4 linked regions of the Homo sapiens genome follow. The protein of the gene in region 1 interacts with the protein of each later gene in a pairwise test. Each region holds a gene or a part of one and is shown in the gene's direction. Other genes may lie near its edges.

Region 1 (7,443 bases):
ATGAGAAGTAGAGCTAGACAAGATCACCCTTTCCTTTATAGTAAGATTTTCCAGGCTTTTTCCTGTAGCAGTAATAAGTGTAAGTTGCACAAATACCTGAAAGATATCAGAACCATCATATTTGCTTCCTACCTGGGTTTCTAGGGAACTGGGATTGAAGAAGGGTTACAACTAGATTGGTACTCACCATACAGTTAGGCTAAACATTAGAGTTGTTTTTAGATAGTGATTTCTCAGAGGAACAGAAGATAAGCCCACCTACCATTTAGGCATTTGTAAAGCATCATTCACTTCCAGTAGAAGATCACAGTGAGTAAAGCATAAGAGCTACTGGGATAGATAAATGAATGGGAGAATGGAAAAATTAGAGCAAAGAAGAGAATTGAAATTGAGGGCCAGATAAAGTATGGAAACGGTGAATAATATGGAAGAAGAGGAATTCACAATGCAGCAGAAAGGGAGTAATCAAAATAAGATAGATGTAGGCTGGGCATGGTGTTTCATGCCTGTAATCTCAGCACTTTGGGAGGCCAAGACAGGAGGATCTCTTGAGGCCAGGAGTTCACTACCAGCCTGGGCAGCAGAACAAGACCCCATCTCTATAAAAAAATAAATAAAAATTAAATCTCTGAGAGATGATTAAGAGAAAATCCCACTTAATTTCCCTTACAGGTTAGGGTGCTAGAGCTAGAAAATGAATTGCAGAAGGAGCGTCAAAAACTGGGAGAGCTTCGGAAAAAGCACTACGAGCTTGCTGGTGTTGCTGAGGGCTGGGAAGAAGGTAAGCTGACTCCAAGGATGGGCACTAACCCGCAGCAGGGAGGGGAAGCTGTGTGGCCAGGGCCTTCCCCTAGAATGGAACAGAACAAGGAACCCACCAGATCGGTGGCTTCTTCCTTCTCTTCTCTCCTCATGGAACCTGTTTTCTCTTCCGTTGTAAATAACCTTTAAGCCTAACTTTGGGTGAAGTTATGGTGATTTGAAAGCTTTTGTTGTCACCTTTTAAGACCTAAACATTGATCATAACTCACTCACTGCCATTCCCTCCCAGGCCCAGCTAGCCTTGCCAACTCCCTGGGAATTTAGTTTCTGGCCAGCAGAGAGTTGAAAAATGAATAAATAGTGGTCAGTCGAGATCTGGCAGACAGGGACAAGTGAATTACAAGGTTCTGTCTATCTAGAGCCAGTGAAGGGCAACAATTGCCAAAAGACAGAAGGGATCAGGTGCTAGGCCGGGCGTGGTGGCTCACGCCTATAATCCCAGCACTTTGGGAGGCCGAGGCGGGCGGATCACGAGGTCAGGAGATCGAGACCATCCTGGCTAACACGGTGAAACCCCGTCTCTACTAAAAATACAAAAAATTAGCCTGGCGTGGTGGTGGGCGCCTGTAGTCCCAGCTACTCAGGAGGCTGAGGCAGGAGAATGGCGTGAACCCGGGAGGCGGAGCTTGCAGTGAGCCGAGATCGCGCCACTGCACTCCAGCCTGGGCAACAGAGCGAGACTCCATCTCAAAAAAAAAAAAAAAAAAAAAAGAAGGGATCAGGTGCTGAGAAATGGAGTGGCATGGAGTCACATTCAGGCTGCCAGCCCAGAGACTTGCCATCCATCACCTCGAGTCTATATGTTGTTGTCTGCATGTCGAAAGCAGTCAACTTGATCACAGCCAAGACTGTTCACTCTTAGTGGACTTGACTGACTCTGGGCACCAACCATAGACAGATCCTAGTCATTCCTAGACACGAAACTTGGGGACTATGTGATTACACCATGGTTATAATTATAATGTATTTTTGAGCCCCCATGGTGGCAGGTTTTGTTGGTTAAGTGAATGAATGCATTCATGAGTGCTTTGCAACATAAATTATCATTGTCTTTTAGGAACAGAGGCATCTCCACCTACACTGCAAGAAGTGGTAACCGAAAAAGAATAGAGCCAAACCAACACCCCATATGTCAGTGTAAATCCTTGTTACCTATCTCGTGTGTGTTATTTCCCCAGCCACAGGCCAAATCCTTGGAGTCCCAGGGGCAGCCACACCACTGCCATTACCCAGTGCCGAGGACATGCATGACACTTCCAAAGACTCCCTCCATAGCGACACCCTTTCTGTTTGGACCCATGGTCATCTCTGTTCTTTTCCCGCCTCCCTAGTTAGCATCCAGGCTGGCCAGTGCTGCCCATGAGCAAGCCTAGGTACGAAGAGGGGTGGTGGGGGGCAGGGCCACTCAACAGAGAGGACCAACATCCAGTCCTGCTGACTATTTGACCCCCACAACAATGGGTATCCTTAATAGAGGAGCTGCTTGTTGTTTGTTGACAGCTTGGAAAGGGAAGATCTTATGCCTTTTCTTTTCTGTTTTCTTCTCAGTCTTTTCAGTTTCATCATTTGCACAAACTTGTGAGCATCAGAGGGCTGATGGATTCCAAACCAGGACACTACCCTGAGATCTGCACAGTCAGAAGGACGGCAGGAGTGTCCTGGCTGTGAATGCCAAAGCCATTCTCCCCCTCTTTGGGCAGTGCCATGGATTTCCACTGCTTCTTATGGTGGTTGGTTGGGTTTTTTGGTTTTGTTTTTTTTTTTAAGTTTCACTCACATAGCCAACTCTCCCAAAGGGCACACCCCTGGGGCTGAGTCTCCAGGGCCCCCCAACTGTGGTAGCTCCAGCGATGGTGCTGCCCAGGCCTCTCGGTGCTCCATCTCCGCCTCCACACTGACCAAGTGCTGGCCCACCCAGTCCATGCTCCAGGGTCAGGCGGAGCTGCTGAGTGACAGCTTTCCTCAAAAAGCAGAAGGAGAGTGAGTGCCTTTCCCTCCTAAAGCTGAATCCCGGCGGAAAGCCTCTGTCCGCCTTTACAAGGGAGAAGACAACAGAAAGAGGGACAAGAGGGTTCACACAGCCCAGTTCCCGTGACGAGGCTCAAAAACTTGATCACATGCTTGAATGGAGCTGGTGAGATCAACAACACTACTTCCCTGCCGGAATGAACTGTCCGTGAATGGTCTCTGTCAAGCGGGCCGTCTCCCTTGGCCCAGAGACGGAGTGTGGGAGTGATTCCCAACTCCTTTCTGCAGACGTCTGCCTTGGCATCCTCTTGAATAGGAAGATCGTTCCACCTTCTACGCAATTGACAAACCCGGAAGATCAGATGCAATTGCTCCCATCAGGGAAGAACCCTATACTTGGTTTGCTACCCTTAGTATTTATTACTAACCTCCCTTAAGCAGCAACAGCCTACAAAGAGATGCTTGGAGCAATCAGAACTTCAGGTGTGACTCTAGCAAGGCTCATCTTTCTGCCCGGCTACATCAGCCTTCAAGAATCAGAAGAAAGGCCAAGGTGCTGGACTGTTACTGACTTGGATCCCAAAGCAAGGAGATCATTTGGAGCTCTTGGGTCAGAGAAAATGAGAAAGGACAGAGCCAGCGGCTCCAACTCCTTTCAGCCACATGCCCCAGGCTCTCGCTGCCCTGTGGACAGGATGAGGACAGAGGGCACATGAACAGCTTGCCAGGGATGGGCAGCCCAACAGCACTTTTCCTCTTCTAGATGGACCCCAGCATTTAAGTGACCTTCTGATCTTGGAAAAACAGCGTCTTCCTTCTTTATCTATAGCAACTCATTGGTGGTAGCCATCAAGCACTTCCCAGGATCTGCTCCAACAGAATATTGCTAGGTTTTGCTACATGACGGGTTGTGAGACTTCTGTTTGATCACTGTGAACCAACCCCCATCTCCCTAGCCCACCCCCCTCCCCAACTCCCTCTCTGTGCATTTTCTAAGTGGGACATTCAAAAAACTCTCTCCCAGGACCTCGGATGACCATACTCAGACGTGTGACCTCCATACTGGGCTAAGGAAGTATCAGCACTAGAAATTGGGCAGTCTTAATGTTGAATGCTGCTTTCTGCTTAGTATTTTTTTGATTCAAGGCTCAGAAGGAATGGTGCGTGGCTTCCCTGTCCCAGTTGTGGCAACTAAACCAATCGGTGTGTTCTTGATGCGGGTCAACATTTCCAAAAGTGGCTAGTCCTCACTTCTAGATCTCAGCCATTCTAACTCATATGTTCCCAATTACCAAGGGGTGGCCGGGCACAGTGGCTCACGCCTGTAATCCCAGCACTTTGAGAGGCTGAGGTGGTAGGATCACCTGAGGTCAGGAGTTCAAGACCAGCCTGTCCAACATGGTGAAACCCCCATCTCTACTAAAAATACCAAAAATTAGCCGAGCGTAGTGACGGGTGCCCGTAATCCCAGCTACTCAGGAGGCTGAGACAGGAGAATCACCTGAACCCCAGAGGCAGAGGTTGCAGTGAGCTGAGATCACGCCATTGTACTCCAGCCTGGGCAACAAGAGCAAAACTCCGTCTCAAAAAAAAAAAAAAATTACAAATGGGGCAAACAGTCTAGTGTAATGGATCAAATTAAGATTCTCTGCCCAGCCGGGCACAGTGGCGCATGCCTGTAATCCCAGAACTTTGGGAGGCCAAGACGGGATGATTGCTTGAGCTCAGGAGTTTGAGACCAGGCTGGGCATCATAGCAAGACCTCATCTCTACTAAAATTCAAAAACAAAATTAGCCGGGCATGATGGTGCATGCCTGTAGTCTCAGCTAGTTGGGGAGCTAAGGTGGGAGAATTGCTTGAGCTTGGGAAGTCGAGGCTGCAGTCAGCCCTGATTGTGCCAGTGCACTCCGGCCTGGGTGACAGAGTGAGACCCTGTCTCAAAAAAAAAAAGATTCTGTGTCAGAGCCCAGCCCAGGAGTTTGAGGCTGCAATGAGCCATGATTTCCCACTGCACTCCAGCCTGAGTGACAGAGCGAGACTCCATCTCTTTAAAAACAAACAAAAAATTATCTGAATGATCCTGTCTCTAAAAAGAAGCCACAGAAATGTTTAAAAACTTCATCGACTTAGCCTGAGTCATAACGGTTAAGAAAGCACTTAAACAGAAGCAGAGGCTAATTCAGTGTCACATGAGGAAGTAGCTGTCAGATGTCACATAATTACTTTCGTAATAGCTCAGATTAGAATGGCTACCCCATTCTCTAGACAAAATCAAATTGTCCTATTGTGACTCTTCTAAAAATGAAGATGAAGAGCTATTTAATGACACACCTTGGATTAAAACGGGAATCACATCTTAAAGCTAAAAATGAACCTGCAAGCCTTCTAAATGAGTCACTGAGCATCACTAGTGACAAGTCTCGGGTGAGCGTAAATGGGTCATGACAAGATGGGACAGCAACAAAATCATGGCTTAGGATCGACAAGAAGTTAAAAAACAGCTGCATCTGTTACTTAAGTTTGTAAGACAGTGCCCTGAGACCTCTAGAGAAAAGATGTTTGTTTACATAAGAGAAAGAGGCCAGACATGGTGTCTCACACGTTTAATCCCAGCACTTTGGGAGGCAGGGGCGGGTGGATCACCTGAGGTCAGGAGTTCAAGACTAGCCTGGCCAACATGGTGAAACCCCGTCTCTACTAAAAATACAAAAATTAGCCGGGCATGGTGGCAGGCGCCTATAATCCCAGCTACTGGGGAGGCTGAGGCAGGAGAATCACTTGAACCCGGGGGACAGAGGTTGTAGTGAGCCAAGATCGCACCACTGCACTCCAGCCTGGGTCACAGAGTGAGACTCCATCTCAAAAAAAAAAAAGAGAGAGAGAGAGAAAGAAATAGAAGAGAAGAGCCATCTTGGCAGGGTTATTTTATATCTGAGCAAGGAGTTTAAATGAGACTAGTTTAGATTGTCTGCTGATGCAGCCGTCCATAGCAGTACCCCTAAAATCCCACCAGAATACGGGTCCCTCTAACCCAGTGGCTGGAAGAACCACTGTCTAGAGCAACTTTTCTTGGAACTGTCCCAGCTACCAAGTCAGACACCAAGGTTTATGCCACCAGGTAACACGGGAATCACAGGTACATGTCGCTCCGGTCAGATTAGTTGGCTTTGGCCCCTCGACCCTGTGCAGGAGCTAGTTCTCAGCTTGCAGCTGGAAGTTCCCTCTTAGCTCCTTAGTCTAGAGGGGTCTCCTGGCTCCATTTGACCCTGGTCTTTAATAACCGGTCAGCATCTTGCTACCTTCTACCACCTTTCCAAATCTCTGGAAATCCTGCCAGGGAAAGCCTCCAGTTCCAACATTGGCTTTCCAAGCAAACTGGCTTTGCCCTCTCTCTGCCATCCTTGTCCTCCAGAGACTGCACCACCTGTAGCATAGAAAACCACCACCACGGACCTGCCAGCCATCGGCGCAGCAAACCAGCCAGCTGTTTGCTGCCAAATTCCTTCCTCTCCCAGGTCCAGACCAAATACAAGATCAGCACCACACCGTGGTGTTGTCAGGAGCCAAAGCAACAGGAAACAATTCAATGCTGTTGGGTTCGATTCTGAGAGTAGATTTTTCCAGACATGTCTTTCAGGTGACCCTCAACTACCTCAGGTTTGAAGGCCCTAAATGAAACTGATTACCACTCATAGGGACAAACCGAGGGGGTTCGGTTACATCTTGGTGATAATGCAGTTGTCTCAAACTTATAACAGACTCTTTCACATTTCAGTTTGCAGGGATAGGGTTGGGTTTGTTTTTCTTCTGTTTTTAACCTTTCCCCTGGGTTTCCATTAGGGTAGTTCCTTGAAATGAATTTCATTTTTCACTGAGTGCCTACCTTCCCAGGGCAGGTGGCCACTGGCTTCTGTTTCCCTCCAACAATACTTTTATTATGGTATTAAGACCTTTCTTTGTATAATACATTGCATCTGTGTTTTCAATTTTTCAAATAAATATTTCCGCCTGGCAATGGAGCGTGGTGGTGATTGACCAGCCAGCGTGGCTCTGAGGTATAGGCTCCAGTGAGAAGCCTGCATTTGTATCCTGGGGTTCATGGAATCCACTTAGCCCCACACCTCTGGGAATATATCTTAGAAATATTAGTTTTGAGCCGGGTGTGGTGGCTCACACCAGTAATCCCAGCTCTTAGGGAGGCAGAGGCAGGAGGATAGCTTGAGCCCAGGAGTTAAGAGACCTGCCTGGAAAATATAGTGAGAAGCTGTTCTCCACAAAAAGGAAAAAAAAAAAAGAAATATTAGTTTGATATTGGGCATGGTGGCTCATGCCTGTAATCCCAGCAATTTGGGAGGCTGCAGTGGGAGGATCACTTGAGTGCAGGAGTTTGAGAGCAACCTGGGCAACACAGCAAGACCCCGTCTACAACAAAATTAACTGGGAATGGTAGCATATGCCTGTAGTCCCAGCTACTTGGGAGGCTGAGTCAGGAGGCTCAGTTCAGCCCAGGAGGTTGAGGCTGCAGTGATCACGCCATTGCACTCCACCCTGGGCAACAGAGCAAGACCCTGTCTCTTGAAAAAAAAAAAAAGACATTTGTTTGCACTTCTTAAACATGTTCCATCCTCCCTGTACGCTCTCCTGTCCATGGG
Region 2 (7,443 bases), on another chromosome or scaffold:
GATCTTGGCTCACTGAAACCTCCGCCTCCCAGGTTCAAGCGATTCTCCTGCCTCAGCCTCCCGAGTAGATGGGACTACAAGCACGCACCACCACACCCAGCTAATTTTTGTATTTTTAGTAGAGATGGGGTTTCACCATGTTGGCCAGGATGGTCTTGATCTCTTGACCTTCTGTTCTGCCCGCCTCGGCCTTCCAAAGTGCTGGGATTATAGGTGTGAGCACCTGGCCAACTTTTATATTTTTACTAGAGATGGGGTTTCACCATGTTGGCCAGGCTGATCTCGAACTCCTGAGCTCAAGTGATCTGCCCACCTCGGCCTCCCAAAGTGCTGAGATTATAGGCATGAGCCACCGTGTCCAGCCTATTTTGTATTATCAACTTTAAGTAAACAGGTATATGATTTTTCTGCCTTTGGTTTTGTAAGTCTAAAAATATTTTCTCATTTAAGTTCTTAAATTTGGGTTATAATAAGAACTAATTAGGACTGGCGTGGTGGCTCACACCTATAATCCCAACACTTTGGGAGGCCGAAGCCGGTGGATCACTTGATGTCAGGAGTTTGAGACCAGCCTGGCCAACATGGTGAAACCCCATCTCTACTAAAAATACAAAAAATTAGCCAGACGTGGTAGCGCACTCCTGTAATCCCAGTTACATGGGAGGCTGAGACAGGAAAATCACTTGAACCCAGGAGATGGAGGTTGCAGTGAGCCGAGATCATGCCATTGCACTCCAGCCTGGGCGACAGAGCAAGACTTAGTCTCCACAAAAAAAAATAAAATAAAATAAAATTAAAAAAGAAAGAAAAATAACTAATTAGGCCAGGCACGGTGGCTCATGCCTGTAATCCCAGCAGTTTGGGAGGCCAAGACAGGTGGGTCACTTGAGGTCTGGAGTTCAAGACTAGCCTGGCCAACATGGTGAAACCGTGTGTGGTGGCACACACCTGTAATCGCAACTACTCAGGAGGGTGAGGCGGAGAATCACTTGAACCCAGGAGGCAGAGGTTGCAGTGAGCCGAGATCACACCACTGTGCTCCAGCCTGGGTGACAGAGCAAGACTCCATCTCAAAAAAAAGAAAAAAAAAAAAAAGAACTAATTTAATTACATTTGTTGTAGTTTACTATAAAAGCAGCACTGGTGCAATGACTCATGCCTGTAATCCCAGCACTTTGGGAGGCTGAGGTAAGAGTTGCTCGAGTCCAGGAGTTGAAGACCAGCCTTGAGCAACATAGTGAGAACACGTCTCGACAAAAAATTTTAAAATTATCCAGGTGTGGTTGTACGTGCCTGTAGTCCCAGCTACTTGAGAGGCTGAGCTGAGAGGATCTCTTGAGCCGGGGAGGTCAAGTCTCCTGTGAGCAGTGATCATCGTGCCGCTGCACTCCAGCCTTGGCACCAGAGTAAGACCCTGTCTCAAAAGCAAAATAAAATTAAAATACTAAAATAAAAATAGCAGTATCAATGATGACAAACTGGGATGTCAGAATTATACAATAACAAATATAAATAATAATATGATAATAGCCAAAGCTTGTGATTACCTTTTAGTTTAAGGTTTTCATTAGCCTTCTTTTCTCCTAAAATTACTTTTCAGTCATTTTACCTTCTGTGTCCTTGCATGTAAATGTGTGTTTTAAAACTCAATTTAGTGTTGCATATTGGGTAAGCCTAAAAGCAATTCCTTTATTTACTTGAGTAAATGGAAATTTAGCTTGATATTTGAAATAGGTTAGCCTGAGAAATAAAATAAATATCAGTAGAGTGACAGTTATACAAGTTAACTGTAGCAAATAAGTTTAATGCTCTAAACTGTTTCTTTTATTCAGCATTATTTGTAATGTACTAAGGTTATAGATACTAAATTATATTTCATAAATTGAACTCATAAATCAGTCCAATTAAACCAAGTGTTTTAATAGCCTGATCCTATCAAAGATAAACATAAAACTTAAATCCCTTTACTCTTTTGTCTTCCATCCCTAATCCTTGATCAATCCAATCATTCATTTTGTCTCTTCTTACACTCAGCCTGTAGAAAGAAAAAGACTGCATAACACTGAAGAAGTGTGGTTACAAAGTTACGACTTCCTGGCTGGGCGCAGTAGCTCACGCCTGTAATCCCAGCACTTTGGGAGGCTGAGGCAGGCGGATCACGAGGTCAGGAGATTGAGACCATCCTGGCTAACAGGGTGAAACCCCGTCTCTACTAAAAATACAAAAAATTAGCTGGGTGTGGTGGCGGGTGCCTGTGGTCCCAGCTACTTGGGAGGCTGAGGCAAGAGAATAGCGTGAACCGGGGAGGCGGAGCTTGCAGTGAGCCGAGATCATGCCACTGCACTCCAGCCTGGGTGACAGAGCGAGACTCTGTCTCAAAAAAGAAAACAACAAAACAAAACAAAAAAAAACAAAGTTATGACTTCTAGCCTAATCTGAGCTCTCAATAATTTTCAGCAATTCTTTGTGCATGTCTATGCATTCTGTGCTTCTTGCATTCTCTATTCATCCTCTGAAAATGCCTTGCCTTCTACCTTACAAAAAAAACAGGCAATCACAAGTGAACTCCAGCTTCCCTCTCTTCAGGTCCAATCCTGCCTTCTTTCCATCTCATCCCAGAAGTGGTACTCTGCATGTTGCAAACACTCTATCTGTAGTCTGGATTCCAAACTCCCCAAATCTGGAACGTCACTTTGTCAGTTATTTCATCGATATCTCATGTCATGGGCCTCCCTCTTCAGTGCTTATAAACATTCTAAGCCCCATCCCAAACGCCCTTCTTTGGGCATGCATCCCTCACTAGTCCTGTGTTTCCCCTTCCCTGGATGGCCACATTTCTTCTAGAATAACCTATATCTGCCATCTTTATTGTTTTTCTTTCTTTTTTTTTTTTAACATTTAGGTTCGGGGGTACATGTGAAGGTTTGTTACACAGGTAAACTGGTGTCACGGTGGGGGGTTTGTTGTATAGATTACTTGACTAGCTCAAGGGTAGAGCATTTGACACCTTTATTGTTATTGTTCGTTTGTTCTGCAACCCAATTCAGCTGCCATTACACCACTAATTGAAACCACCCTTGTTAAAATCACTGGTGACTTCATGAATGTCAAATCCAGTATTTACATTTTTTTCTGCATTTATGCTGAAATATAAAGTATATAGTAATGTGCATTAAACTTATATGTGCAATTTAACAAATAGCTATCAAGTGAACACTCACATTATTACCACTTAGATCAAGAAATAGAACATTTTCTTGGCCCAGATGCAGCCCGCACCACAGCTGCATTCCTCACCCAGGGGGAGTAATCACTATTGGGTGGCAGTGCTGATTATTTACTTGCTTTGCTTTACGGTCATGTTTTGTTTTGTCATCACCAGGGTCAAGGTAATGAACATATTCACCACCCCAAAGGTTTCCTTCTGCCTCTTATATCCTACTCACCACTCCCTACCCCAGCCCCAACCAAACAACCACTGATCTGCTTTCTGTCACTACAGATTAGCCCATATTTTCTAGAGTATTATATTAACAAAATCATATGGTCTTTTCTTTTGGTCTGGCTTCTTTCACTCAGCACAATTATTTGAAGATTCATTTATGCTGTAGCATATATCAATAATTCATCAGTTTTTATTGCTGAGAAGTGTAGCATTGTGTGGATATATCACAATTTCTTTATCCTTCACCAGTTGATGGACATTAGGGTTGTTTCCAGTGTGGGACTATTACAAATAAAGCTATTGTGAACGTTTGAAAATATGTCTTTGGATATACACATTCATTTCTCTTGAGTAAATACCGGTAAAAACATTTAGAAGCTGAGTAAGGCCTGCAGTCTAGTTCACAGTAGTGTACCAATGTCAGTTTCCTGGTTTGGATGTTGAGCTGTAGTCATGTAAGATGTTACCACTGGGGCAAAGTGTACAAAGGGTGCACTGGACTCTTAACATTTTTGCAACTTCCTGTGAATCTATACTTTTTCAAAGTTAAACATTTTTTTAAAAAGTAATATGTCTTAATTATATAAAATTGAGAAAATGCAGATAAGCAAATAAGAAAAAAATTACCCATATTCACATCCTCTTGAGAGAATTACTAATAATATTTTTATATATATCCTTCCAATGTTTTTGACAGATAGATTTTGATTTTTGTTGTGGCTGTTTTTACCCATAGGATTATGTTTTGTAACAGGGACAGCAGATATATTTATTCTTCTTACCTATTAATATTGTAGTATTATGGAGACAGTTTATTTTATTTTATAATTATGTATTCATTGAAATTAAAGTATTTGCTTCTAATTTATTTTCTTTCTTTTTGTATCCTTTAGTTGATGACAGTGCAATTTTGGATTGCCAGTTCAGTGAGTTTTATCATACGCCTCCACCTGGTTTTGAAAAAATATTATTTGAACAGCAAATCTTCTGAATGTATTTGTTTTTAAAACTTGTATTTCTGCACTGTTAAAAAATGTTCATCATTTAATAAAACTTTACCTGGCCTATAGATGAAAATATATTCTTAAAAATATGCTTGTTGATGCTGTCTAAGGAACCAATGTATTCAGTATACCACCCTGAAGTTGTGATTTAAAATACTTTATGTTTTGTGAAATGAAAATAAGCATTTGGGCAGTTTATTTAATTCTTATTTAAATAAATAGAATTATGGGTTTAATTAACAGTATAACATGACTATATATACATATATATTTAAAGGGAATTCTTTCTTACATAATATATTTGTTTTGATAGAGATGTAGAGTTGGGTGGGTGTTTTTGTCACTCTGAAGTTTAGACCTCATTAAATATTTGACATCTACAGTTGGATAATTTTGCCGCTTAGTGTCCTTTTTTATATACAATATAACAAAGTGAGAGAAATTTATATTACTGGCAATTTCATTTTTGGCAGTCTATTTCTGTATCATGTACCGCTTTTCTTAAAACTTAAATTGCTTATTTTGTTGTGTAATGTCATTGCTTTTGATTTGCTTTGTGAAAGGAGATAAACGTTTCAGTAATTGTCAGAGCATTTTGTTGCCTCAGGCTGTGTTACCTCAATTTCAGAGTAAGTAGTGGTTGATTAGTAATGTAGTATACACTGGCAGACATCTAGAATAGTATGATGCTTTACATTTAAATGAGGTTATTCTTTTAAGGACTTTTATTTGTATGTTTTCTGTAAGGAATAATAAAATAATTGTAATTAAGGAATATACCATACTATATTAAACACATTCTTCCTATTTTGTTAGTTATACACTAAATTCACATCACCCGTGATTATTTCAGTTCAGAGATAAGTGAATCCTCTTCATGACCCTGAGTCTTTGCCTGGTTCTTAAGAATCACTGTCCTTTAGTTAACGCCCTGTGACCTGAACCAATCACTCTATACATCTTTAGATACGTTGTCTGTTTTCAAATGAGCATGGCAAGGATGCATACATTTCCCTCCTTTATCAACTAGAAACAGTACATTGTTCAGGAAAACATGAGTGTTAGAATTAGAAAGAGATCCAAATTGTAGTTTTGCTGCTCATCCTATTTTCTCCTCTCCAAGTCTCAGATTCCCATTTATAAAAGGAGCAATCATACTGACATAAGATTCTATGATTAAATAAGGTAATACATATATAACACCTTAATAATCATAGGCACTTGCGCCAGGCGCGGTGGCTCACACCTGTAATCCCAGCACTTTGGGAGGCTGAGGCGGGAGGATCACAAGGTCAGGAGATCGAGACCATCGTGGCTAACATGGTGAAACCCTGGCTCTACTAAAAAAATACAAAAAAAATTAGCCAGGTGTGGTGGCGGGCGCCTGTAGTTCTAGCTACTCTGGAGGCTGAGGCAGGAGAATGGCTTGAACCCGGGAGACGGCGCTTGCAGTGAGCCGAGATTGCCCCACTGCACTCCAGCCTAGGCAACAGAGTGAGACTCTGTCTCAAAAAAAATTAAAATAAAATAAAATAAAAATCATAGGCACTTAGTAAGTGTAGTTTCCTGGATGGTAAAGTATCAGGGAAAGTGGTTTTCTTTCTTTTTTTTTTTTTCTCGTTTTTTTTTTGAGACAGAGTCTCACCTTGTCACCCAGGCTAGAGTGCAGTGGCACGATCTTGGCTCACTGCAACCTCTGCTTCCCAGGTTTAAGCGATTCTCTTGCCTCAGCCTCCCGAGTAGGTGGGACTACAGGTGCCCGCCACCACGCCCGTGTAATTTTTGTATTTTTAGTAGAGATGGGGTTTCACCATGTTGTCCAGGCTGGTCTCAAACTCCTGACCTCATGATCCACCTCCCTCAGCCTCCCAAAGTGCTGGAATTATAGGCGTAAGCCACCACACCCAGCCAGAAAGTGGTTCTCATGATGCTTCTCAGACCGGCAACATCAGCATCACTGGAACTTGTTAAAAATGGACACTCTCAGAACCCACACCAGACCCACCAAATCAGTTTGAGAACTGCCATTCAGTAGAGAATTATTTGCCTACTGTAAATTTTCTAAGGATTTATGATGGGCTATTTTTGACCCATAGGCTCAGAGAATCCTGCAAAATCCTTTTTTATTGTTTATTCTGCAGACAAAAATGTGACAATATGCTTTGAAAACATAGATATACTTGAGTAACATTTATTTACATAAATCCCAAATTCTACCTCTGAAGGTATATGAAATTTAACTATGTATGTATTATGCATTTTGTCTGGCTTTCTATCATAATTTTAATTTGTAAAGAATGTGCTTACTTGGGAAAGCAAATTAAAGTGACTACTGTTTGCTATCGTTATGATGTTATCTACCTCTTTTTAAAATTCTTTTAAAATTTAATTTAATTTTATTTTATTTTGAGACAGTCTCGCTCTATCACCAGGCTGGAGTGTAATGGCACAATCTCAGCTCACTGCAACCTCCACCTCCCGGGTTCAAGCAATTCTTCTGCCTCAGCCTCCCAAGTAGCTGGGACTACAGGCGCACGCCAACACGCCTGGCTAATTTTCACACTTTTAGTAGAGACGGGGTTTCACCATGTTGGCCAGAATGGTCTCGATCTCTTGACTTCGTGATCCGCCAGCCTCGGCCCCCCAGAGTGCTGGGATTACAAGCATGAGCCACTGTGCCCGGCCTCTACCTCTCATTTTTTTTTAAGCCAACCTTTTGAAAAATCATATTCTTTTCTGCCTCTAATTATACAACAGAGACATAGTACTAAAAATGATACTGAAGTTTATGTCCATGACAACAGTTTGGTGAAATCTAGGTGTGTTTTTATCTCCATACATATCAAATTTATCTTAAGAAAATTACATTGAGCTGGCCGTCCTTCCACAACCCATAACCTTAGTCTAATCATGAGAAATCAGACAAATTCAGAGGGGCATCCTATGAAACACTTAATGATGCTACTCAAAACTTTCAGGGTCACCAAAACATGG
Region 3 (8,339 bases), on another chromosome or scaffold:
AGAGTAAATGGGAAATCTACTTCTCACTCAGTCCATCCTCTTGTACCTGCAGGGAGACTCTCCAATGTTGCTGACTGTTTTGAATTAGCACATTTCTTTGCAGTCCCCCATATCCACCAGGATACATTCCAAGGCCCCAGTGGATGCCGGAAACCGTGCATAGTACCATACCCTACATATGCACCAATTACTTTTTTCTCCTTCACAATTTCACAGATAGAACATTTGTTCTTACCGTAGATCTTCGCAACTTCAGTAGAGAGTTTTTTCTTTTTTTTTTTATTAAGTGGAGAGTTAGTTACTTACTTAGAAATGTTTCTTTTCTTATTAGGTTTTTTTTTTGTTTTGTTTTGTTTGTTTGTTTGTTTGTTTTGAGACAGAGTCTCGTTCTGTCTCCCAGGCTGGAGTACAGTGGTGTGATCTCGGCTCACTGCAACCTCTGTCTCCTGGGTTCAAGCGATTCTCCTGCCTTAGCCTCCTGAGTAGCTGGGACTACAGGTGCCCGCCACCACGCCTGGCTAATTTTTGTATTTTTAGTAGAGACAGCGTTTTACCATATTGGCCAGGCTGGTCTTGAACTCCTGACCTTGTGATCAGCCCACCTCGGCCTCCCAAAGTGTTGGGATGACAGGTGAGAGCCACTGTGCCCAGCCCTTATTAAGTCTTTAAGTGGGAAGCTTTTCTTTTCACTTTTATTTTATTTTATTGAAATATTATAACAAATCATTGAAGAAGATAGTGTTATCATTCCATTCTGATAAAACCAATTAACTTATCCAAGCATGTGCATGCTGTACACAGAAGATCCACCGTTAAAAAGTCCCTATTTTTACTTACTTTTCTTAGATTCAGCGGATACATGTGCAGGTTTCTTATATGAGTATATTATGTAATGCTGAGGCTTGCACTTTTAATGATCCAGTCACCCAACTAGTGAGCATAGTACCAAATACATAGTTTTTCAAGTCTTGCCCCCCTCCTTCTCTCCTCCTTTTTGGAGTCCCCAGTTACTGTTGTTCCCTTCTTTGTGTTCACATGTACCCAGTGTTTAGCTCCCACTTATAAGTGAGAACATGGTTTTCTGCTTCTGTGTTAATTTGCTTAGGATAAAGCCTTCCACCTGCATCCATGTTACTGCAAAAATCTTGTGCCTTTTCACAGCTGTATAGTATTCCATGGTGTATATGTACTACATTTTCTTAATCCAATCCACTACTGTTGGGCACCTGGGTTGATTCCATATCTTTGCTATTGTGAAGTGCTCCAATGGACATACAAGTGCATGTGTCTTTTTGGTAGAATTATTTATTTTCCTTTGGATATATACCCAGGAATGGGATTGCTGGGCTGAATGGTAATTCTATTTGTAGTTCTTTGAAAAATCTCCAAACTGCTTTCCACAGTGGCTGAACTAATTTACACTCCCACCAACAGTGTGTAAACCTTCCTCTTTGCTCCACAATCTCACCAGCGTCTGTGAATTTCTGACTTTTTAGTAATAGCCATTCTGACTGGTGTGAGATGGTAATGGTATCTCATTGTGAAATTCCCTATATTTTTATATGATTCTCAGGGGGTATCATGGGTCTGAATACTGACTCATGCCCTGGGCATGACTTCCACATTGCAGAATTGAGAAGTTGACCCAGAAATGCATTTCAGGCTGAGCAGACAATTATCAGAGGAGCTGGCTAGACCACAGCTGTGGTCAGATGTGTCATAGGGACCATGGCCTTTCTGTAGACTCATGGTCAGAGGTGGAGAGGAGCTGTGAACCTTCTTGTGAAAAAAGTCAAGGTGAAAGCTGCCCCGTGGTGATGGGCGCTGGGCCTCACCTACCACATACTGTGCATCTCCTGGCCTGCTGGGCTCAGTCCCCACCCCACTGCTTGGCACTCGACTGGCAGAATCTGAGTGATGCCTTCTGCACTCCCTGCCCTGCTCTGCCACTGGCTGTGTCTGAGCCAGAGGATCAGTGCTCAGCAGCAGACTCTCCCAAAACCCATCATCTGGGCTGAACCCAGTTCATGAATCCAAATGAAAAGCCGGTGACCATCTGTCACTGGGGAGATTCTGAGGCTGTTGAATACCAGCTGTACTTTGAAGGAAGCCTTTCTGCCATGGAGAGACCAAAACCCCCTGAATGGATTAACAAAGTTGAATTCCACATCCTACTCATGACCTTCCGCACAGCAGGGCTATACAGCTGCTTCTATCTGGCTGGGGAGCTCTGGTCGGAGCCCAGTGACTCTGGATCTGGTGGTAACAGGAGGGAAGATCCAGCCGCACACAGTGCAGATATGGGAATGTCCAGGCGGAGTTCCCCATTGGTCCTGTGACCACAACCCACAGAGGGACATACCGATGTTTTGGCTCCTATAACAACCATGTGTGGTCTTTCCCCAGTGAACTGGCAAAGCTCCTGATCATAGGTGACATTGAGAACACCAGCAGACCCCACCTCTTCTGGCTCTTGGGACACCTACCTTTTAACCAGAGACGGGACTCCAGAAAGACTGTGCCCTCTGAGACCACACTGCCCAGAATCTCCTTCAGATGGGCCTAGCTTTCCTTGTCCTGGTGACTCTGGTGTGATTCCTAGTTGAAGACTGGCTCAGCAGGAAGAGGACTAGAGGGCGAGCCAACAGAGCTTCCACTTGGGATTGCGGCAGAAGGTTGAGAACACAAAGACCCCTTGAAGAATGACCAAGAAACGCAGTGGCCATGGGTGGAACTGAAAGCCGATCTTGAGCCTGGGCATTGGGAGCTCTGTGTTGGGAGAAGGGAGTCATTGTAGGAAAAAGGGACAGTGGTATTCCATTTGTCAAAGCATCCTGGAGGAGACAGGAGGTGGGAGAAACAAGCTAAATTTCTTTGGGAGGCAAAAAAAAAGAAAAAAGTTGTTTTAAAAACTCAGCTTAAGTATCCCTTCTTTGGAGAAGAAAGGTCCTTTTCTCCTACAATGTGGAATATATGTGTATATATATACACACACACACACACACACACACGCATATATATACACACATAAATAAATACAAATTATTTGTGTGTATATAAATATATATATGTATGTATTTATGTGTATTTACATAAATAAAAGCATGGTCCTTACCAAACACAATCATCTACTGACCCATCTGTATCTTTCACTAGGATTACGAGGGCAGGGATTTGGTCTTTTACCTCTATAACTGTGGCATCTACGCATTGTGTGGCATGTAACAGATTTCTAACAAGTATTTGCCTTTTGGAGGAAAAGGGAGCTGTTGCTGTTTTTAAACTTTGGCCCAGGACAGGTGGTCTTTATTATTCAGAACCTAAGAATTAAAAAACCCATAATTTATCAAAAACAAACTTTTGAAGAAACACTAGAGTAAAACATTTGTGTGTGTGTGTGTGAGTGAAATATGCAGTTAGTATTGTTATAAACAAAGTCCAGGACTCAACGAAAGGAATAAAGTAAGAATAGAATTGAAACATGATGCATGTTGTAATTATTCCCTAAACTACAGTAACATGATGTTAATTTTTTTTTTTTTTTTTTTTTTGAGACGGAGTCCCGCTCTTTAGCCTAGGCCGGATTGCAGTGGCGCAATCTCGGCTCACTGCAAGCTCCGCCTCCCAGGTTCACGCCATTCTCCTGCCTCAGCCTCCCGAGTAGCTGGGACTACAGGCGCCCGCCACTGCGCCCGGCTAATTTTTTGTATTTTTAGTAGAGACGGGGTTTCACCGTGTTAGCCAAGATGGTCTCGATCTCCTGACCTTGTGATCCGCCCGCCTCGGCCTCCCAAAGCGCTGGGATTACAGGCGTGAGCCACCGCGCCCAGCCACATGATGTTAATATTTTCCTCAAAATAAACTCAGAATTTAACATAGTGTTCTTCCAGACGAGTGTGAAGGAAGGCAGGTGTTTTCCCAATGCTGTTCTCCTTGGGAGCTGTCAGCTTCAGTGCAGTATTTCACAGCTAGACTGTGAACAAACGTTAATTCCAATTGGCTCAATATACATTCAACAGTAAAATACCAGAAGTGAGTGGTCTCTGTTGTTCTCCAAAATGTATGATCTGGAACAGACTTTTATCGTGAAAGTGTTCATAGTTTGCACACATCACTCCCAGCTGGAAGTTGTTGTCCAGTTTAACAGTTATATAATATAATCTTTTATGTGAGAATTTTGAATAGCACAACAGAGACAAGAAAACAGACTAACTTCTCCTTGGTATGACCACATCTTGGCAAAAAGTGAAAGTCCTATTTAAAATGTAAAGGAAATCCTATTTGGTGAACCCTGTAATAGGTGGGGGCTAAAAGGGAAATCTAGGTTGCTGGATTTGTCACTAGGGTTTCCTCTAGTAATAGCCAGAGGGTTCCAGTTAGTGTCACCTCCCAGTATGAAAATAAATTTTCTTTCAGGCTTTGTTTGTGGAGTGGTAGGTGGAGCATTTTTTTAGGTCCTGATGACCTGGAAGGTGACTCATAATCACCCTGAAACGTATGAGGACCCTAAGGAAACCTCCCCTGGGGGAGACAGAGGGCTGGGGTTAGAGCCATTGCGTTGGGCTCGTCTGGCACCTTCTGGTGTGTGCGGCACCTGGTGGGGGTTCGGCACGGAGCCGCACCCAACACTGACCCGGGCCCCCCCACCCCTGTCCTGAGCCCAGGCGCTTCGCCCTGTCCCACCTAGCTCTGAGCAGCGCCCCCCAGCACCCTGAATGCGTCCGCAGGACCCCGCGCTCTACCCGCAGGCCCCGCACCCCCTAGCTCTGGGCCGCGCCTCACATCCCTCCCAGAGCCGCAACACCCCACCCGGCGGGACGCCCTCGAGCAGCCGCTCGTTGCGGGCCTGAAGCGCAGAGCGCCTATTGGCCAGAGCGGCCGAGGGCGGGAAAAGTGGCCAACGGCTGCCTCGGCCCTCGGGCTGCTGAGGAGATGGCGTCGGGCTCCAAGGCCTCGGTGCCCGCGGACTCATTCCGCACCATCAGCCCGGACAGGCGAGGCGAGAAGTCCGCCTCCGCTGTCTCCGGGGACACGGCGGCCGCGACCACCCTGAAGGGCACCGCGATCCCAGTGCGGTCGGTGGTGGCCTCCCCTCGCCCGGTGAAGGGGAAAGCGGGCCGGGAGACGGCCAGGCTGCGGCTCCAGCGCCTGCCCGCGGCTCAGGCCGAGGACACGGGAGAGGCGGCGGCGGCGGCGGCGGAGGAGCCCCTGCTGCCAGTGCCTGAGGATGAAGAGGAGGCGCAGCCCCTGCCCCCAGTCTGCGTGTCCCGTATGAGGGGGATGTGGCGGGACGAGAAGGTGTCGCTGTATTGCGACGAAGTGCTGCAGGACTGTAAGGTGAGCGGATCCGGGACAGGAAGACTACGGTCGGAAGCTCGTCGGAACCTGGGGACAGGCATCTGGGGCTTCCCTCTTAGGCGGATGGGGATCCACAGGGCACAACGAAAACTTGCGTTTCAAAAAAGTAAATGGAGTCAACATGTATAGAGCGTTCACCTTGTTAGAGGTGCCCGCGTCCTGCCCTAGAGGAGTTAAGGTTCGAGTTTCCGACAAAATTCGTCAGGTAACGGGACAGCCCTGAGAGAGAATTTTCTGAGAGCTCCTAAAAAATGAAGATATATTGGCCTTATCATTGCACAGGCATGAATCTTGGTACCTTTATTTAACAGTTTATGTCCAAACATGAGTAAGATCACTTAGCCTTGACTTTTACACTAGAATGCTAGAAATTACTTTAAGGGTACTTCCCACTCAGCAGTCCACAATGCGGCATGATATATATGTGTGTGTATATATATATATAAATGTGTGTGTGTGTGTGTGTGTGTGTATATATATATATATATATATATATATATATATATATATATATATTTTTTTTTTTTTTTTTTTTTTTTTTTTTTTTTTTTGGAGACGGAGTTTCATTCTTGTTGCCCATGCCGGAATGCAGTGGGGCAATCTCGGCTCACACAACCTCCGCCTCCCGGTGCAAGCAATTCTCCTGCCTCAGCCTCCCGAGTAGCTGGGATTACAGGCATGAGCCACCACGCCTGGCTAATTTTGTATTTTTTTTTAGTACAGATGGGGTTTCTCCAGTTGGTCAGGCTGGACTCGAACTCCCGACCTCAGGTAATCTGCCCGCTTCGGCCTCCCAAAGTGTTGGGATTACAGGCATGAGCCACCGTGCCTGGTGGCATGACTTTCTTTTATAGAAAATACATATCTGATAAAACGGAATAGAGCAAATATTTCATGTTTCTAACCTATTTTTTTAAGTTGTAGCAGAAGAATTTGTGTACCTGCATATTCACTGCAGTGATATTTATAAAAAGTTGAAAATTAAGACATAAACAATAACTAGCTGTCTTATCTATGAATTATTCGAGTGAATAGATCTCTTTTAAGTTTAATTTTTTGTTGGTGATGTTTTCCACTAGATGCGGTTTCAGTTAAAATCTGTAATTTTCCAGGTCATTCATTATTTAAGGCTATATTGGTTCCATTTTAAAATAGAAATCAGTAAAAAAAAAAAAAACCACTTAGTTTAAAATCTATAATTTCATATATTTATATGTAGATCCATTTTTTCTCTTGTTAGGCAGAAGATGCTGATGAAGTTATGGGTAAATACCTATCAGAAAAATTAAAGTTGAAAGACAAATGGCTTGGAGTCTGGAAGACTAATCCCAGTGTATTCTTTGTGAAATATGAAGAAGCTTCTATCCCTTTTGTTGGTATATTGGTTGAGGTAAATAAATTTTATTTGATCTTTGTTCTTTTTGAATCAGTTCTTTTAAAGACTAAAATATGACTTTATTATTTGGAGATTGATACACAAGAGTTGACACATTTTTACTTCTGTTTTAAGTTTCCGAGAAAATTAATAGTGTAAAAAGAAGGTTAGGGGAATATTAGTGCCTGTAAACCATTATCATTAAATGGAATCTAGTAGTATCAGACAATATTTATTAGCCTAGTTTTTGCTCAACTAATGTAAAAATAACAAAAATGCATTTCTTATAAAATTAGTGATTCAGTCTTTAACAAACTTGGGCCTTCTTTTTCTGTCTTTTCCCTTTAATCTTCATTTATCTGAATTAAGAAGTTTAGTTCAGATGAGGAAAAAAAAAGAAATGGATCAGAAAACTACTGGGAAAATTTGAAATTTTTTTCCTTTGAAAAGTACCCTTTTTAGGGAGGCTGAGGCAGGAGAATGGTGTGAACCCAGGAGGCGGAGCTTGCAGTGAGCTGAGATCATGCCACTGCACTCCAGCCTGGGCAACAGAGTGAGACTCCGTCTCAAAAAAAAAAAGTACCCTTCTAGTATAATATCTTCCAAGCCTTTATCTGATAAGATTTTTCTTTTTTTTTTCTTTTGAAACAGAGTTTCGTCCTGTCGCCCAGGCTGGAGTGCAGTGGTGTGATCTCGGCTACTGCAACCTCTGCCTCCCCGGTTCAAGCGATTCTCCTGCCCCAGCCTCCCGAGTAGCTGGGATTACAGGCGCATGCCACCATGCCCAGCTAATTTTTTGTATCTTTGGTAGAGACGGGGTTTAACCCTGTTGGCCAGGCTGGTCTTGAACTCCTAACCTTGTGATCTTTAGCAGAGAAGGGGTTTCACCATGTTGGCCAGACTGGTCTCGAACTCCTGGCCTCGTGATCTGCCTGACTCAGCCTCCCAAAGTGCTGGGATTACAGGCATGAGTCACTGCACCCGGCCCTAATAAGATTTTTCTTTGTTAGGCCTGTAGGCTAAACATTGTGGCATGTTTGATTCTGTTAAAGGTCAATTATCCTTATATAGAAATTAATATTTATAACCACAAATGATACCCTTACCCCAGATAGTTAGTTTAAATCTGTATTTTTGGATACAAGAAAAACTTATGTATGTAACTTGTTGTATTATATACTACTTGAAAACAATTTAAAAATATGTGTTCTGTGGAAAAGTCAGTGTCAGTTTTACAGATAAAGAATGGCGGCTGGGCGTGGTGGCTCACGCCTGTAGTCCCAACACTTTGGGAGGCCAAGGTAGGTGAATCACTTGAGCTCAGGAGTTAGAGACCAGCCTGAGCACCATGGTGAAACCCCATCTCTACCAGAAAAACAGGCACACACCTGTGGTCCCAGCTACTCAGGAGGCTGAGGTGGGAGGATCGCTTGAGCCTGGGAGGCAGAGGTTGCAGTGAGCCTGGGTGACATAGTGAGGCCCCATCTCAAAAAAAAAAAAAAAAAGAATACCATATTTTCAGTCACAGAGATTACAAAGGAATGTAAAAGATTATTGGGATTAGTTAATTTTTCAATAAGACTCTATTAGTTAATATTTCAGTAAT
Region 4 (7,885 bases), on another chromosome or scaffold:
TAAAATAAAATAAAAATAATAAAAAATTTTCATAAATAAGTACCTATATGAAAAAAACCACTGAATCTCAGAAATAAAATGCTGAAGCTACAATTATAAAGTCACATAAAAGGCTGCCTGGGGGTGCCCAGTCTGTTTTCCACCTCTGTTGATCTATAAATACAACAAAAAGGAAAACTTTGAGACCAGTTAAATAAATGGTAAATACCACATACACATTTCCAAAAGTTAATCATTCAGAAACTGTACCTACTTGAGTCAATGAGGGAAAAGCACAGAATAATTTGACTGAATCACATTTCTATTCTATGTCAATGAGGGAAAAGCACAGAATAATTTGACTGAATCACATTTCTATTCTATGTCTCTTTTTTTTTTTTTTTTTGAGACTGCTGGGCCGCCACTGCCTCCCAGGTTCAAGCAATCCTCCTGCCTCAGCCTCCTGAGCAGCTGGGATTACAGGCGCCAGCCACCACGCCCAGCTAATTTTTTTTTGTATTTTTAGTGGAGTTGGGGTTTAACCATGTTGGCCAGGCTGGTCTCGAACTCCTGACCTCAGGTGATCTGCCCACCTCAGCCTCCCAAAATGCTGGGATTATAGGCGTGAGCCACTGCGCCCGGCCACTTCTATGTCTCCTTAAATGATTATGAACTGCTGGAGCAAAAGGTTTCCATGACTGTTAATATTTAATATCTAACTATAAAGGCTATATTTCAGTATTTGATGTACTTATCATTTTGATGTTAAAAAGGAAAGCACCACTCTCAATATAGTAGAAACTTAACTATGAATTTTTCTTGTAAGCCATGTTAGAATATAAGCTTATTGAGGGTAGAGATACCCTTGAATCTGCTGTAGTGAACTAGCCCTCAATAAATACTAGATTTTCATTGGAGTTACTGTGTAATACTTATGTATGCCTTCTGAACTAAGACCCTAAGCTCTGCACTGCCAATTCTGGTTTACCCAACAGGCAGATGAAGCATATGCTTCAGGGCACCAGCAAAACCAGAATGTTAAAAAAAAAAAAAAAACCTTTGCCAAATAATTTAATATCTCAGCAAAACCACTGAAGTAGCCATCATGGGAAAAAAATCAGAACTTTGTTGGACTTTTTTACTGTTATTTTGGGGTTCTGTTATTTTTCTTTTTATTTCTATATAAGGAAGAGGTGGTAGAACATCAAAATCTTTTCAGTGCTTAGGGCCTCCAAAAATCTTAATACAACTCTGTGTACATCTTAAATTATCATAAGTTTTCCTTAGTTGTTCAGCAATAAGCATTTTATTTCATGAAAATTATAGTACGTTTACCCGTACTTTATGTAATCATACAATTTAAGATTCTTCCTCTTTACAATTTATCTCTAAGCAAGAAACCATAATAAATGCTAGAAGGCAATCCTCATAAATTGGACTAATACCAGTTCTCTTTTATCAGCCAACAGTGCTAATATGTCCTCACACCCTCTGGCTGTATGAAAAGATTACACAGTTCCCAGAATAATCAAAAGTAAATTATTATTTATTTCTTACTGGTATAAATGGAATCTTAAATGTTTCTATTTGAAACGTCTACATATATGTAAGAAAAAGAGAGTTAATTTCTTGTTTTGTAGTTCTCATTTGATTCACAATTCAAGTTTAGTTACCTAAGAAAAGAACTCTAGTTTTTTTCTCAACAATTACATTAAAGAAAACACTGCCAGATTCTTCCCAGTTTCAACTTTCCCTCTACCTACCAATCTCTTGCTGGATGATTACCCAGATATTTCTGGTGTGTTTTGTTGCTAATACTCCCAGTGTACTTCAAGAAGGGTACAGATACTGCTTGAGGATCCGCTTGCCAAAGGCCGGTTCTAATTAGACTTGTCATTTTTTGCTTGGTTTCATTTTGACCACTGGGTGCATCATGCAACCGTGTTGGATATTTTTAAGAGTATAAAAATACAGAAAGCAATAGTTAATTAATCTCACATAGCTAAAAGAGGAAGTTAAAAGTACTGGAAATTGGTGTCGGATGATTAAATAAAGGATTAGGAGAGAGACCATTCTAGACACCCTCCCCAACCCCACATCCCCAAAATCCAAGCCACTTCTAAGTAGTGAGAGAACTTCGGCAACCAAGAAATGGCTTTGTTAGAAAACACTTCACACGACTTATTTTAAATTTTGCTTTAAATTTAATTGCTTTTCTCCTTTTTCTCTAATAATAGGACTATTTCGCAGTTTCCAGTCCTTGATTAATTAAGGCTTCAGAGTTCGTTCTTACATATGCCATGTCTTAAGTTTTCATAAAATTCAGTCTACACAAGACTTGCTTTTTGTGAGCACTGTGCTTAGTGGCAGTCCGGATTTTTCCCTCCACCCCCGCGGCCACCCCTGCCCACCGCGCCGTCGGGCATGGATCTGGCAGGTGCGAGGCCGAGGCCAGGGCTCAGCGAAGGACGCCGAGTTTACAGAGCGCGCGCGCCTAGAGGAGGCAGCAGCAGCCGCAGCCTGGCCGCCCGAACTTTGCGAGCCTGGCGGGGGAGCACAGAGGCGGGCCGACCTGCCCCGCTAGCGCTGAGGAACGACTCCCTTTATGCCAGCTCGCTGTCCGCCTTCCCGCAGCGTACGCTGCGGAGCCTCAAAGACCCTGCGGCCCTCCACAACCGTCTTAAATAACAAACCCCTGTCCTCGCCCCCGTAGGAATTGGGGCAGCTGGGGGTTCGCGTCACAGACTCAAGCCCGCCAGCAGAAGGGCAGGCCGGACTTCGCGGGGCCGAACCCCGCTCCAGCTGGGGACAGGCCGCCTAGCCGGCAGGAGGGAGCCGGCGCGAGAGACTTGACGGGAGGAGGTGGAGAGCGGGAGGCGGGAATGAGGGCGCGGGACCGGGCGGGCGGAGCGTGCGAGACTGCGAGCGCGAGCGCCAGCAGGGCGGAGGGCGGGGCGTGGGCGGCGCCCGGCCTTCCCGCTCCCGCGGCGCTGCAACTCTGCCGAGCCTCCTTAAAACTCTGCCGTTAAAATGGGGGCGGGTTTTTCAACTCAAAAAGCGCTCAATTTTTTTCTTTTCAAAAAAAGCTGATGAGGTCGGAAAAAAGGGAGAAGAAACCGGCACCCTCTCTGAGAGGCAACAGAAGCAGCAATTGTTTCAGCGAAAAAAGCAGCAAGGGAGGGAGTGAAGGAAAAAAGCAAAAAAGGGGGCGACACGCAAGTGCCTGTAGGGGTGAAAGGAGCAGGGACCGGCGATCTAGGGGGGGATCAGCTACAAAAGAAACTGTCACTGGGAGCGGTGCGGCCAAGGAGGAAGCAGTGCTGCCAGGCTCTGCTCCAGGGCACAGCTGGCTGGCGGCTGCCCTGTCCGCAGCAAAGGGGCACAGGCCGGGGACCGCGAGAGGTGGCAAAGTGGCACCGGGCGCCGAGGCTGCTGAGCGCTCGCCGAGACGGCGACCGGACTGGCTGCCCCGGAACTGCGGCGACTCTCCCTACTCAGAACTTGGCCTACGTTTCCCAGGACTCTCCCCATCTCCAGAGGCCCCCACAAAACCGGGAAAGGAAGGAAAGGACAGCGGCGGCAGCAGCTCAATGAGTGCCTACAGCAGAAAGCCTGAACGAGCTCGGTCGTAGGCGGGAAGTTCCCGGGGGGGCTGCCCAGTGCAGCCGCAATGCTGCCGCGAGCTGCCCCAGCAGTCCGGGCTCCGTAGACGCTTTCCGCATCACTCTCCTTCCTCGGGCTGCCGGGAGTCCCGGGACCTGGCGGGGCCGGCATGACGGGCTTCTCGGGGGCCCGCCGCACGCCCGGCAGCCTCCGGAGACGCGCGCCGAGCCCGGCTCCCACGGCCTCTGAGGCTCGGCGGGGCTGCGGCTGCCTGGCGGGCGGGCTCCGGAGCTTTCCTGAGCGGCATTAGCCCACGGCTTGGCCCGGACGCGACCAAAGGCTCTTCTGGAGAAGCCCAGAGCACTGGGCAATCGTTACGACCTGTAACTTGAGGGCCACCGAACTGCTACTCCCGTTCGCCTTTGGCGATCATCTTTTAACCCTCCGGAGCACGTCAGCATCCAGCCACCGCGGCGCTCTCCCAGCAGCGGAGGACCCAGGACTATCCCTTCGGCGAGACGGATGGAAACCGAGCCCCCTGGAGGACCTGCCCCTGCAGTTCTGCCTCACACGGCTCAAGTCACCACCGTGAACAAGGGTGGGTGAATGCCTTTTCTTCCCCCTGAATGTCTTTCCTTCCGCGGTATTTTCTGCCCCGATCTATAGTCCCTTGAGTCTCCACACACACTCCTCACAGAGATCTGTAGCGTAGGTACGTGACAGCTCTGCCTACATCTGACGTCCGGAGTCATTAACCAGGAATGTATGTGTGTCTGTGTGTCTCTCTGTGGAGTCGTCAGAATTCTTCATAGGGGTTAAGCTAAAAAAGCGAGGCGAGGAGCCCCTCTCCAATGGCTCAGTTTTGCTGAATAATCACGTGTGAATCGAGGGGCGGGCTTTTGGCAGGCAGATCTTACTAGTATTTACTACCAAGCTCTACTCCAGATTAACCATCCCAGTCCTTCTGTCAGTCTCCGATGCCATCATGCAGCCTGGTTAGGAGCAAAGGAAAGGGGAAAAAGAAAAACGACTAATTCATCTTTTCCTGATCGTCAGGACCCTAAAGAATGGCCGAGCCTTGGGGGAACGAGTTGGCGTCCGCAGCTGCCAGGGGGGACCTAGAGCAACTTACTAGTTTGTTGCAAAATAATGTAAACGTCAATGCACAAAATGGATTTGGAAGGACTGCGCTGCAGGTTGGTATTAAGAGAGGTGGGGAAAACAAGTCAATAATGTTGCCTACGTGACCCGGGTTTCTAGATTTACAGCTTTTAAGCTTTCAGGGACATAAAATTTCACTGTTTTTAAACCTAGTTGGTTGCCATATTTTATATCTTTAAGTGGATGCAACTTCTCAAAATGACGTACTTTGAACAAACTCCTCAAATCCAATAACATCCTTGATATCAAGTGGGGTCCAGATTTGGTCTTAGTTTTTGGAATGTTTTTGTGACGGTGGGGATTTTAAAGTAGTCAGTGTAGGGCCGAGGTTTGTTTGTTTTGTTTTGTTTTTAAAGACAGCTCTGTAAACACATTATTATGATTATTATTTGAAGTAAATACACTGCTATTAGTGGTTTTACGTACTTTGCCCCCAATAATAGACTTTAACGTTAATTTTCTTGACTACTGATGAGGGTGTTTTTCCTTCAAATGCTTCAAGTTTTGACAAACGACCTTTCCTCGTTTGGAATGGGTGGCCTGGGCACCGGGACAGGATGTACATTTTACAGTTAATGTAATACCATCCACTCATTCAGGAGTCGGGAGGAATAAAAAGTTGAATTTTCTAATCAGAGCTCAGCTGCAGTGTCTTTGTCTCTACGGTCATGCCGTGGTGTGCTCTAATTTTCAGTAATTAGATTTACAGGCAACAATTGACACATGTCCAGCTGCCAAGTATTGTACCTGATAATTTTTTTCCTCTTCTGAATGTTATCATGTAACTTAGGTGAAAGGCTTAGAAACAGAAAAATGACAAAATAGTTTAAAATAGTTGCTTTATCAGAGTTCTGATGATATTCTTATGAGCTATTCTTATTTGGAAATGCAACACTTGAAGCTGTTTTTGAAAACCCAGTGGGGAGAGGGTTTTTAGAGGGCTTTGTTTCGGTTACAAGAATTAAAAATTTAAGTGCCAAGAGATATACTATTAACAAACAAAGTCCATACAGTCTGTACATTTTCAGTCAGAATACACTGGCCTTGCAAAAATTTCAGTATTAAGGAAGTTTATGCACAGATACTAAATTATTTATCTTGTTATTGCTGCTACATTAAGTAATGATTTTTTTTCCTTTTTCTACCTAGTAGTTTTGAACAGGTTTAGTGATGATAGCAAAGTAACAAATTTAATATATTGAAAAGTTTCCTTTTGAAAACTCAAAAGATTATATAAACTTCACAAAGAATGAACTACTTAACCCATGTTCATGATAAGATTTTACAGGATTTTTGACGAACAGGAAGACTGGGAAATTAATAATATTCTTTTAAAAAGTTTTGACAAACATTTTTAATACAACTTTGCAATCTTGTTTATATTAAACATACTTATCAAGATACTAACACCCACTTATTGTGGCTTAGTCCTTGTACATATAACGAAACACACACACAGAAACTGGAGTTTCAAGGCTTATTTTCAATATGTATAATCCTGACTCTGAAGTTGTGTCATAAGTCAAGAAATAACTTTCTTCAAAACCGTTTCCAATATTGCTATTATTTTCTGTGAAAAAAGGTGAATTTTCTTCTACAATTATGTTTATTTAACTCAATTTCAAAAGCCTTTTCCACCTTCCTAGTGTACATTTTTCTATCAGGTTAATATCAAAGGCCTTAATCGTATGTTTGCTTTACGAAGATCCAAGGTATCTGTCTCTTATTTTTCTCATTCCAGGTCCTTAAATATGACTAAATCTTTAGGGACAGTTGTGGTCGTATCAATTTTTAATAACCAAAAAGTATGTTTCATTGAAGTTCTTGAAATATAAATTATGTATCACTGTTTACCACTGCTCCAAAGGAAGAGCTAAAAATCAACAGTTTTATCAACAGGGGAGCTTAATATCTTGTCCATCTATGTAGTTTGCATTTACAAAATATTACTCATTTTAAATATATTTTGTTATTTAATGTGTGATTAGATTTTTTTAAACAAACATTTAAAAAAGATAGAACGACTTTGTATTTTCCATTAGCATTTAATTTCATAAACATTGAGTGTCTATTATACAAGATATTTATTATAAATTTAGATTATTATGGATATACCTAGATATAAATAAACCAGTGTAAATTCTGAAAATGTGTGGCATGTTAATGAAAGTAATATTTTTTCACAACTAAATTATATGTATTTTATATTTGCATGCTGTTCTACAAGATACTTTATAAGAGACCACTGTTAGAGTGAAATATATTCAAACAATAGTAGATAATCTTTGTTATGTGAATTATTTGTATGTTGATAGCAAGTGTTAATACCACATTCTGACTTTTAAAATGTTGGCAGTTTACAAATAGCTGTTCCTTAAATGCTTGATAATAACTGAAAAAGGAACTAACACAGGATCACCAGTTGATTATTAAATGAGCTCAAACCACAAGACAAGGCTGTCCGTGTCCCAAAACACCCATTAAATATCTTATTTTTTCTTCTTTTGCTCATTTGAAAATCAGGAGGCTTGTCAGAACTTTGAGAAACAGTATATAATGTAATAGGGTGACTATTTCATTATTTTCAAGAACAGTTGTCCTACAATAATTTCCTACTGTGATACAAGGCATATCAGGAACTTAGTTTTATATAAATTGATATCATAAGCAATTTAGAACACTGTGGCTTATTTAACACCTTAATAATCAGTACTGTTTTGTAACTTAAAATGAAGGATTCTAAACATTGAATACACCTAGTAGCCAATATTAAATAACTTGCAAATAAAAAATATTTTTAAGAAATGCTTGGAAATTTGGAGCTATATCTATTTGGAGGGAACTTGTAAAAATTGATCATTTAAGAAAATATCAGGCCTGGATTTTTAAAACATCATTTTTACACTCACTCATGGAGTTGGTTTAGAGAAACTCAACATCCTTATTTGTTTGCAGTAGCTATTTAGAAAATAAAGTTTAACCACATATGATTTTCTAGAATTAATACCACAGGCACATTTTATGAGCATGAACAATCAAACAGAAGGAGACTCTTATTTAAATCCCAAATTCCATTTCTGTTATTTTAATAAATTCGTGAAATTACACAACTCTTCATGGAACATAGAGAACAGAATTGTTA

The links.
Region 2: the proteins of HIP1 (region 1) and SPRYD7 interact in binary tests that used the Homo sapiens proteins (3 or more experiments, as listed by UniProt).
Region 3: the proteins of HIP1 (region 1) and SHCBP1L interact in binary tests that used the Homo sapiens proteins (3 or more experiments, as listed by UniProt).
Region 4: the proteins of HIP1 (region 1) and CDKN2C interact in binary tests that used the Homo sapiens proteins (3 or more experiments, as listed by UniProt).

Annotation. Positions count from the first base shown.
Region 1 is NC_000007.14:75,532,661-75,540,103, reverse strand, and holds the end of HIP1 (huntingtin-interacting protein 1), read left to right. Parts: intron 1-672; coding exon 673-781; intron 782-1,879; coding exon 1,880-1,932; 3' UTR 1,933-6,806; downstream 6,807-7,443. UniProt on the Homo sapiens protein: Plays a role in clathrin-mediated endocytosis and trafficking. Involved in regulating AMPA receptor trafficking in the central nervous system in an NMDA-dependent manner. Regulates presynaptic nerve terminal activity.
Region 2 is NC_000013.11:49,912,056-49,919,498, reverse strand, and holds the end of SPRYD7 (SPRY domain-containing protein 7), read left to right. Parts: intron 1-1,277; exon of another isoform or gene 1,278-1,406; intron 1,407-2,034; exon of another isoform or gene 2,035-4,338; coding exon 4,339-4,436; 3' UTR 4,437-6,797; downstream 6,798-7,443.
Region 3 is NC_000001.11:182,949,727-182,958,065, reverse strand, and holds the start of SHCBP1L (testicular spindle-associated protein SHCBP1L), read left to right. Parts: upstream 1-4,899; 5' UTR 4,900-4,932; coding exon 4,933-5,337; intron 5,338-6,076; exon of another isoform or gene 6,077-6,081; coding exon of another isoform or gene 6,082-6,129; intron 6,130-6,598; coding exon 6,599-6,748; intron 6,749-8,339. UniProt on the Homo sapiens protein: Testis-specific spindle-associated factor that plays a role in spermatogenesis. In association with HSPA2, participates in the maintenance of spindle integrity during meiosis in male germ cells.
Region 4 is NC_000001.11:50,965,720-50,973,604, forward strand, and holds the start of CDKN2C (cyclin-dependent kinase 4 inhibitor C), read left to right. Parts: upstream 1-4,525; 5' UTR 4,526-4,649; coding exon 4,650-4,778; intron 4,779-7,885. UniProt on the Homo sapiens protein: Interacts strongly with CDK6, weakly with CDK4. Inhibits cell growth and proliferation with a correlated dependence on endogenous retinoblastoma protein RB.